2 separate regions of the Homo sapiens genome follow, and region 1 is linked to region 2. Evidence: fine-mapped expression QTL. A gene starts in region 2. The other region holds a variant in brackets. All regions are shown on one strand. Distances are between the middles of the regions.

Region 1 (4,388 bases), 30 kb after region 2:
CTTTGGGAGGCCACGCTGAGAGGATCACTTGAGCCCAGCAGTTTCAGACTGGCCTGGGCAACACTGTGAGGCCGTTTCTAAAAAAAAAAGGAAAAATTAGCTGGGCATGATGGTGTGTGCCTGTTGCTACTCAGGAGGCTGAGGTCAGAAGATTGTGTGAGCTCGTGAGGTCAAGCCTGCAGTGAGCTATCACTGCACCACTGCATCTAGCCTTTCTCTGTATGTACAAAATGCTAATGCTGCCACCTGCATTCTGGGCCCCCAGTGAGTGTAATGCCAGCTTCCCTGAGCTACAAAGGCCATTCTCAACAGCCCAGGACATAGAAGAAGACTATTTTTTATTTTTGAGACGGAGTCTCACTCTGTCACCCAGGCTGGAGTGCAGTGGCCCAATCTCTGCTCACTGCAACCTCTGCCTCCCGGCTTCAAGCGATCCTTCTGCCTCAGCCTCCTGAGTAGCTGGGACTACAAGTGCACACCACCACACCCGGCTAATTTTTGTATTTTTAGTAGAGACAGGGTTTCTCCATATTGGCTAGGCTGGTCTCGAACTCCTAACCTTGTGATCTGCCCACCCTGGCCTCCCAAAGTGCTGGGATTACAGGCGTGAGCTACCATGCCTGGCCTGGAGAAGACCGTTTTTATTCTGGACCCAAACCCTCAATTTTCTGGGCTCTGTGCAGCCCTCTTCCCTCCCCTGTCAAGTCACTTACCATGCAAACCACAGGCTCTAAGAGTTTGTCCCCAGGGACATCCATCCAAGTCATCTCCATGGCTCCTGGGTCCCCTGGTGAGCATGGAGTCAGGAGGTCATCAATCATCATGCTGGGGTTGGTGCGAGAGGGGCCACAGACCTGAAACCAAATGGATCTGACTGGGGCAGCTGCCCCTCAGTGTCAGAGGGGCTCGACCCCTCCGGTCTCTAAGGAAGTCCCAAAGAGAATGCTCTGTGGGTCCCTAGCATCTGAGGAGGACGGGCTCCTTCAGAACTCGGGCTGGGTGGTCCGAGCGACTCATGATTTGCATGGGACTCTGGCAATCTGTAGCCCCAATGCCTTGATGTCTTCCTCATTAACACTGTCACGTCTCACCAGGAATACAGTGACATTAAAAGTGTGATATGGTTTAGCTGTGCCCCCACCCACATTTCAACTTGAACTGTATCTATCTCCCAGAATTCCCACATGTTGTGGGAGGGACCCAGGGGGAGGTAACTGAATCATGGGGGCTGGTCTTTCCCGTGCTATTCTCGTGATGGTGAAGTCTCACGAGATCTGATGGGTTTATCAGGGGTTTCCACTTTTGTTTCTTCATTTTCTCTTGCCACCAGCATGTAAGAAGTGCCTTTGGTCTCCTACCATGATTCTGAGGCCTCCCTAGCCATGTGGAACTGTAAGGCCAATTAAACCTCTTTTTCTTCCCAGTCTCGGGTATGTCTTTATCAGCAGCATGAAAATAGATTAACACAAAGTGGTTTTCCAACTGAAGTCCGCTGCCTTGGCAAAACATTCCCCCAATGTCCACAAGGCTCATTCCCTCACACCTTCACCTCCTGTCTCAGGCATCACCCCAGTGCCATCTGCCCTTCCCTCCATGCCCGAGACACCTCTCTCCTAACCCTGCTCCATCTCCATCCTCTGAGACACTCACTGACTGTGTTGACTGTCTCCCCACCAACAACGGAAGGTCTAGGATTTTTGTCTGTTGGTCACTCATATCTTCCCAGCACTTAGGACAGGGCCGGGCACACAGGAGGACCCACAGCAAATACTCAGCAGAGATCTGCTGAATGAATAGACAGGTCTTCCTGGTCATTTTATATCCAACACTTTCCAAACACTGATTTGGTGTCCACCCCGCACAAGAGCACACAGTGCTGACGGAGGAGGCCGCAGCAGGGTTAAGACAGTAAAGTGGCCCTGTCCTCTGCTTTCACACACCCTGAGATGGCCACACTCCAGAAGAGCTGCAGGGAGGGGACAGTGGGTGCAGCCCCCATGGCACTGGCCCTCGGCTCTCCAGGAGGCCTCAGAGACTGTGTCACCTGAGCAGCCGGGGAGCAGGACCAGGAGCTGGGAAAAAAAAAACCGAACATCCCGCTCTTACTATGAGATTTTTCTCAGCAGTGGCCGCGGGCACTCACCTTTTTGAAGTGTGTGGCCGACTGCACCTTCCTCACGGGCTGCATGAGAGAGTCCCGCACGATGATGCTGATGTCCGCGCCCGAGTAGCCTTCCGTCTTCCGGGCCAGCTCGTGGATGTTTGCATCCGTGAGGTTGTGGGGAGTGCTCCCGAGATGCAACCGGAACATCTGGGCGCGGGCAGCTTCCTCCGGCAAGGGGATATAAATTCGTTTTTCAAACCTAGAGAGCCCAGCACACGGCAGGAGTTGACAGCGGATGATGGAATGGTATTCACGGAAGGGGAGGCACGAAGATTTGAGTGAAACGGACGCATTTCATGGGCCAGTGATGCTGGCGGCACATCCTCAACAAGCCAGCCTCACAAAGGGCTCTGCTTGGCAGGCAGACGGGAAGACTCCAGGGAAAAGGGGCCAGGCTGCACCCGGGCTGCCAGCAGCAGGCGGACCGTGACCATGGTGGGAGGAAGCCTCCAGCCCTGGCTTCTCCTGGG[G/A]AAGACTCACCTCCTCCTGATGGCCGAATCCAACACCCATGGGATGTTTGTGGCTCCAAGAACCAGAGTCCCATCATTGTTATTCCCCACCCCTGTGGAGAAAGGGAGACAAAGACTCAGACTCTGGACACCTGCACGGGTCAGTTGAAACCTGGGGACAGACCCCGGGGGCTTTGTGTGTCAGCAATTGAAGCCATCCCTGTGCCACCCACCACTGGCAGGGTCCCAAGTGAGATTAAACCACATCTTGGTCTGGCTGTGCCAGGTGAGACCTATGGCACTGCCTGCCATGGGAGGGGTGGAGTGGCCCGTGAGGCAGAGGCCTCAGGCACCTCTTGGGAATTGAAGTCCACCCGTGCCCTGAGGGGCTGGAGCTGGGGAGTGCCTCTCCGAGGCTGAGAACAACCAAATCCAGCCGCAGCTCAGAATAAAGCCCAGGGTTGGCTTCAGGTGCAACAAGAACCAAGGGGGCCCTGGGCCCGGCACACACCCTGCATCTGGACCAAGAACTCCGTTTTGATCCTCCGGGCGGCCTCACTCTCATTTTCATTTCGGGACCCGCAGAGGGAATCCACCTCATCGATGAAGATGATGGAGGGCTTGTGCTGCCTGGCCAGCTCAAACAGGTTCTTGACCAGCCTGTGAAGGTGAGAAAGGGGGTGAGGACAAGACGTTCACGTCCGTGCCCGCCTGGGCTCCCGGCACTTCCCTCTTCTCACCCTTCCCACAGGGAGGCGCAGGCCACGGTCATGCCGGAATTGCGGAAAACGTGGTGGTGAGGAGCCCTCGGGCCACACTGCACCAAGAGGAGGAGCACACCTTGGTGTCAGCCCCAAACGCAGAGCCTCAATCCCAGGAGCCCCATGCGCTAGCTCTGCACTTACAACACGTCAGTCCCCTTCTTCCGAGCCCGTCTCATCACACGCAAAACAGGAGTCAGTGTGGGGAACCATGTCCCCCACACACTGCCCCAACAGGGACCGCAACCCAGACCCCAAAAATATCCTCACTTCCTTTCCCTTCTCTTGTGGAGCACTTCACCTCTCCCAGGTCCCTTCCACCTTCACTTGTCTTTGTTGGGACTGTGTCCCAGCCGATAAGCTAGCGACACACTGCTCTTGGGTACCCTCCCTGAAAACCAAACCACTCCTCTGAGAGGTGACTCCACAGGGTGGGCCGCTGGGTCACTAGCAGTGCCGGGGCTGCTGGCAGAGCATGGCCTGGTGGCCGACTTACTTTTCACTCTCCCCCAGCCACTTGGACATCAGATCTGAGGAGGACACAGAGAAGAAGGTGGAGTTGTTGGCCTCTGTTGCCACGGCTTTGGCCAGGTAGGATTTCCCTGTGCCAGGGGGTCCGAACAGCAGAATCCCCCGCCAGGGGGTGCGCTTGCCTGCAACAGAGAACCACAGAAGTTAGGCCTCCTGACTGGGGAAAGGAATAGGAAAAGCAGAGGGTCTCGAGTCCCATACATACAGTAAAACAGGGCATTCTGTGAAACAACGGACTCTACTGGCAAACAAGTGATGGGAGCTACATTCCCTGCTGTGCCCTGTGCTATGACCCCATGACCTTGCACAGTGCCCCTGCTATGACCCCATGACCTTGCACAGTGACACCGGCTGGCACTGCTTCCTGATCCTGCCCCCACCCTGTGACGTGATCGTCATCTCATAGCTCCAGCCACAGCAGTGTTGTGGACACCAGCGAGCAGCCAGGCCTGGCCCTCTGCAGGCCCCGGGGGCTGAGTCGCC
Region 2 (4,388 bases):
ATTGAAATGTGTGCAAAGATAAAACTATGCTTACAGCTTCTGTAGAACTATAAAACTTACTATGAACTGACGATTGTTTCGCCGAAACCAAGTCACTGCTTATGGCATGACCAGTGCTAGGACTGCGACGGTGGTGGGACTCGGGTGGGGGATGCCTGTGCCACGTGTGCTGATAGAAGTTCCCAGACTCTTCTGTCACTTGAGCAAGACTGCCATAGAGCCACTGTGCTCCCAGAGTGCTGTGCTGTCATTTGGCCTTTGCTAGAACTGAACCCCATGTATAGAGTCTGTTTTCTGCCTACTTAGCTTGTGACACTTTGAGTCAATGCAAATAATTGCTGGAAGGTGTTAATGCTGTTTTGTTTTTTGTTTTTTAAGATTATGACTAAGGCTAGGCACGGTGGCTCACACCTGTAATCCTAGCACTTCAGGAGGCCAAAGCATGGGGATCACTTGAGCCCAGGAGTTTGAGACCAGCCTAGGCAACATGGCAAAACCTCATCTCTACAAACAATACAAAAATCAGCCAGGTGTGGTGGTGCACTCCTGTGGGTCCAGCTACTTGGGAGGCTGAGGTGGGAGGATCGTTTGAGCCCAAGGGGGTGAGGCTGCAGTGAGCTATGTTTGTGCCACTGCACTCCAGCCTGGAAGACAGAGTGATACCATCTCAAGGAAGCAAAAAAAAAAAAAAAAAAAAAAGATTAGGACTGAAAAATGGTTAGGCAGTGTCAGAACTCAGAGACTGACAGCTTGAGAATGAGAAACACTGTCCTGCCTGGTGGTTAAGAGCATGAGCCCCCACCGGGGACCCAGCTCTGCCAGGTGTGCTTGTGGGAGCGTGAGCCACCACTGGAATCTCTGAATGTCTGTGTCCTCATCTCTAATGCCAGAGCTCACAATACCTCCCTTGCAGGGCTATTGTGAGAATAAAATAAGATGCAGGTAAATCTTAGCTCAGTGCCTGCCATGAAGGAGGTGGGTGTTGAAATCATGAATAAAAGAATAAAGATTAAGGATGTGAATAATATAATTGTCTTTAAGTGGGTTCTGGATAGTTTTTTCCCCCATGGGTGCTGAAGAAGTCCTGAATAAAAGAAAGATCAAGGCTGGGCGTGGTGGCTCATGCCTGTAATCCCAGCATTCTGGGAGGCCGAGGCGGGTGGATTACTTGAGGTCAGGAGTTCGAGACCAGCCTGGCCAACATAGTAAAACCCTGTCTCTACTAAAAATTCAAAAATTAGCCGGGCATGGTGGCAGGCACCTGTAATTCCAGCTACTCAGGAGGCTGAGGCAGGAGAATCGCTTGAACCGGGGAGGTGGAGGTTGCAGCGAGCAGAGATCGTGCCACTGCACTCCAGCCTGGGTGACAAAGCTACGCTCCATCTCAGAAAAAAAAAAAAAAAAAAAAAAAAAGATTGAGGCTTTGGATAATATAATTGTCTTTCAGTGGGTTTGGATAGCTTTAGGTGACCGTTAGGTGAAAGGCATCAGGACGAGGACTGTCAGTGGAGGGGTCTAAGCACCATCCTCTGGCACTGTATTCATCCATTTACATCTTTGCACACACATGCTGTGATTTGCTCTGAGCTGCAGCATTGGGGAGAGAGAAGTGTTGCCCCATGTGTTTATAGGAGCAATTTGATGTAAGAGAACAATCCCCCCAGCCAACTTTTTGTCAGTGTATTCAGAAGTTGTAAACTTACCCACTATTATATCCCCAAGAAGCAGGAACTAAAAAATGACAGCCCTAATGAAGGGTGGAAAGACCTCTTCTGAGGTGGTAGATTCTATGTAGCACCCATGAAGTAGGTTTGGTAAGCCACTGAGTTTTTGAGGTGAAAGCAAAATTTCCTCCTGCGAGCCAAACATGGGAGTATCATGGCAGTTCTATGATGAATATCTATGTGTGGCCCTGAAATGGGCCGTAATGTGACTTGTGGAGTTAATCATTAGCCCAGCGGTTGTCTGAACGACTTGATTTCCCTGGGCTGCGAGCAGTTCACCTGCAGAGGAGGCTCCAGAAAGCGGCATGTCCCCTTTGCTCTTTGGGGCTGGGCTGGTCGTTCTGAATCTAGTGACGTCTGCCAGGAGCCAGAAGACAGAACCTCTAAGTGGCTCTGGGGACCAGCCACTCTTCCGTGGAGCTGATCGATATGACTTTGCCATCATGATACCTCCAGGAGGCACGGAATGCTTTTGGCAATTTGCCCACCAGACTGGATACTTCTATTTCAGTTACGAGGTATGTGGGTGACTGGCCATACTGGGGGGCTTTTTTTTTTCTCCTTTACTCATAAAGTGGGTCAGGTTTTAGGCCAAAACAAGGTCTGGTTGTCTTTATTATGCTGTGATTCCCCACCTGTTAATGAAATGGACCTGCAGTTAGAGGGAAACTCCAGCTGGGTGAATAATCACCAACAGGAGCTAAAACATATGGTTTGGCTTCTTACATCAGGGGCCATGCTCAAAGCCATGGGGCAGACGGGGTGCCTCTCCCTGAAGAGGTAATCATTACATGTACTCGGATTTGGGGATGAGAGGGGAGAGAATACATTTTTAATATATTAAAACAAAATTGGATAATGGTGCTTTGGAGACTGATCCAGAGATTTCAAAGAAGGCTGCTTCAGCTTATGGGGTGGGGGAGTAAAGGTTCTGCTGCCTTTAGGAGCAATTCTGGCAAGTCAGAGATTCACTAGGTCAAGTTTTTTGTATTCGGCCAGTTAATCCTATTTTTTTTTTTTAGGACGGTAAGTGTTTTCAAGTTACTTATTCAAAGGTCAAGTACTTTTACCCATACTATGGTCTTATATCATGCTGTCCAAGGATGGTGAACTCAGTATGAAAGTTAGAGGCTGTTCATTTCCTTTGTTCTTTATCTTAGAAATCGGTTAACTTTCTAATTTTTGTTTACATAGTAATAGACTTTGTTGATCTTACTCCACTGTAACAACATTTATTTTAAATAAACTTATCAGAGACTTTTCTTACCTCTGAATTTCTATTAGAACAGCAGCCACTACTAAGCTCACTGTGGCCTGGCCTAATCAAGATCTAGCTTGGGAGCAAGTGTCCATGGAGTGCTTGTTGTAGGTGTGCACTGCCAAGCAGCAAATGCCCAAATCTGGGACATCATTGGGGAGCTCAACCACCAAGCAAGTTCATTCAAGAACTCTACAGCCAGGCCGGGTGCGGTGGCTCACATCTGTCATCCCAGCACTTTGGGAGGCTGAGGCAGGCGGATCACCTGAGGTCAGGAGTTCGAGACCACCTTGGCCAATATGGTGAAAACGCATCTCTACTAAAAATACAAAAATTAGCCGGGCTTGGTGGCATGTGCCTGTAATCCCAGCTACTTGGGTGGCTGAGGCAGGAGAATCGCTTGAACCTGGGAGGTGGAGGTTGCAGTGAGCCAAGATCACTGCACTCCAGCCTGGGTGACAGAGCAAGACTCCGTCTCAAAAAAAATAAAAAATTCTACAGCCAGAATCGTACTTTTTTTTTTTTTTTTTTGACAGAGTGTTGCTCTGTCGCTCAGGCTGGAGTGCAGTGGCATGATCTCGAGTCACTGCAATCCCTGCCTCCCGGGTTCAAGCAATTCTCCTGCCTCAGCCTCCAAAGTAGCTGGGATTATAGGCGCACGCCACCATGCCAGGCTAATTTTTGTATTTTTTAAGTAGAGACAGGGTTTCACCATGTTAGCCAGGCTGGTCTCGAACTCCTGACCTTGTAATCTGCCCACCTCGGCCTCCCAAAGTGCTGGGATTACAGGCGTGAGCCACCGCGCCCGGCCCAGAATCATACATTTTAGTGGATCCACACTAGCTGTGTGTTCCGAGCAAGGCATGTCTTCTTCACACGGGTGCTGTTGGCATTCTGGGCAGTTCTTTGTCCTGCTGTACTGTTTCTTACATTGCAGACGTTCAGCAATGCTGTGCTGCCTCCCCTTAACACCATCACTGTGATACCTCAGAATCCTCCAATCAACTCCAAACCCCAGCAGGGGGTTGGGCAGTCCCACCCCAGACAGAGACCGCTGTGCTGATGACCGTGGGACGTCAATCTTACCACTCAGCTGGCTTCCTCGTGATGTAGCAGGGGTTCTGCTACCTATTTAATGTGTCTTGGCAGGTTCAGCGGACAGTGGGGATGTCACATGACCGGCATGTTGCTGCCACGGCACATAACCCACAGGGATTTCTCATAGACACCTCCCAGGGTGTTCGGGGCCAGATTAACTTCTCTACCCAAGAGACAGGTCTGTTTTCATTACCATGGCTATTATAATAATCATAGGGTCCTATGAAATTACAGAAATAATGAGGAAGTATACAGAGATGTTTTAACAGTAGGAAAAAAATTCAGCCTTTAACACCAAAAACCAGTGT

What was found. PIP is the estimated chance that this variant, and not a neighbour inherited with it, causes the effect.
Region 1: its variant is fine-mapped to the expression of TMED6 in prostate (GTEx, PIP 0.92).

The regions. Positions count from the first base shown.
Region 1 is chr16:69,319,026-69,323,413 of GRCh38, reverse strand. VPS4A (vacuolar protein sorting 4 homolog A) reads right to left here. Exons shown (of 11, transcript NM_013245.3): 6 at 3,871-4,027; 7 at 3,125-3,273; 8 at 2,645-2,726; 9 at 2,144-2,363; 10 at 714-854. Among named protein-coding and RNA genes, the nearest start is that of PDF, 9.4 kb to the left of the region's middle. The variant G/A (reference allele first, on the strand shown) is at 2,635.
Region 2 is chr16:69,349,395-69,353,782 of GRCh38, reverse strand. TMED6 (transmembrane p24 trafficking protein 6) reads left to right here and starts at 1,997. Exons shown (of 4, transcript NM_144676.4): 1 at 1,997-2,242; 2 at 4,132-4,258. The coding sequence starts at 2,030.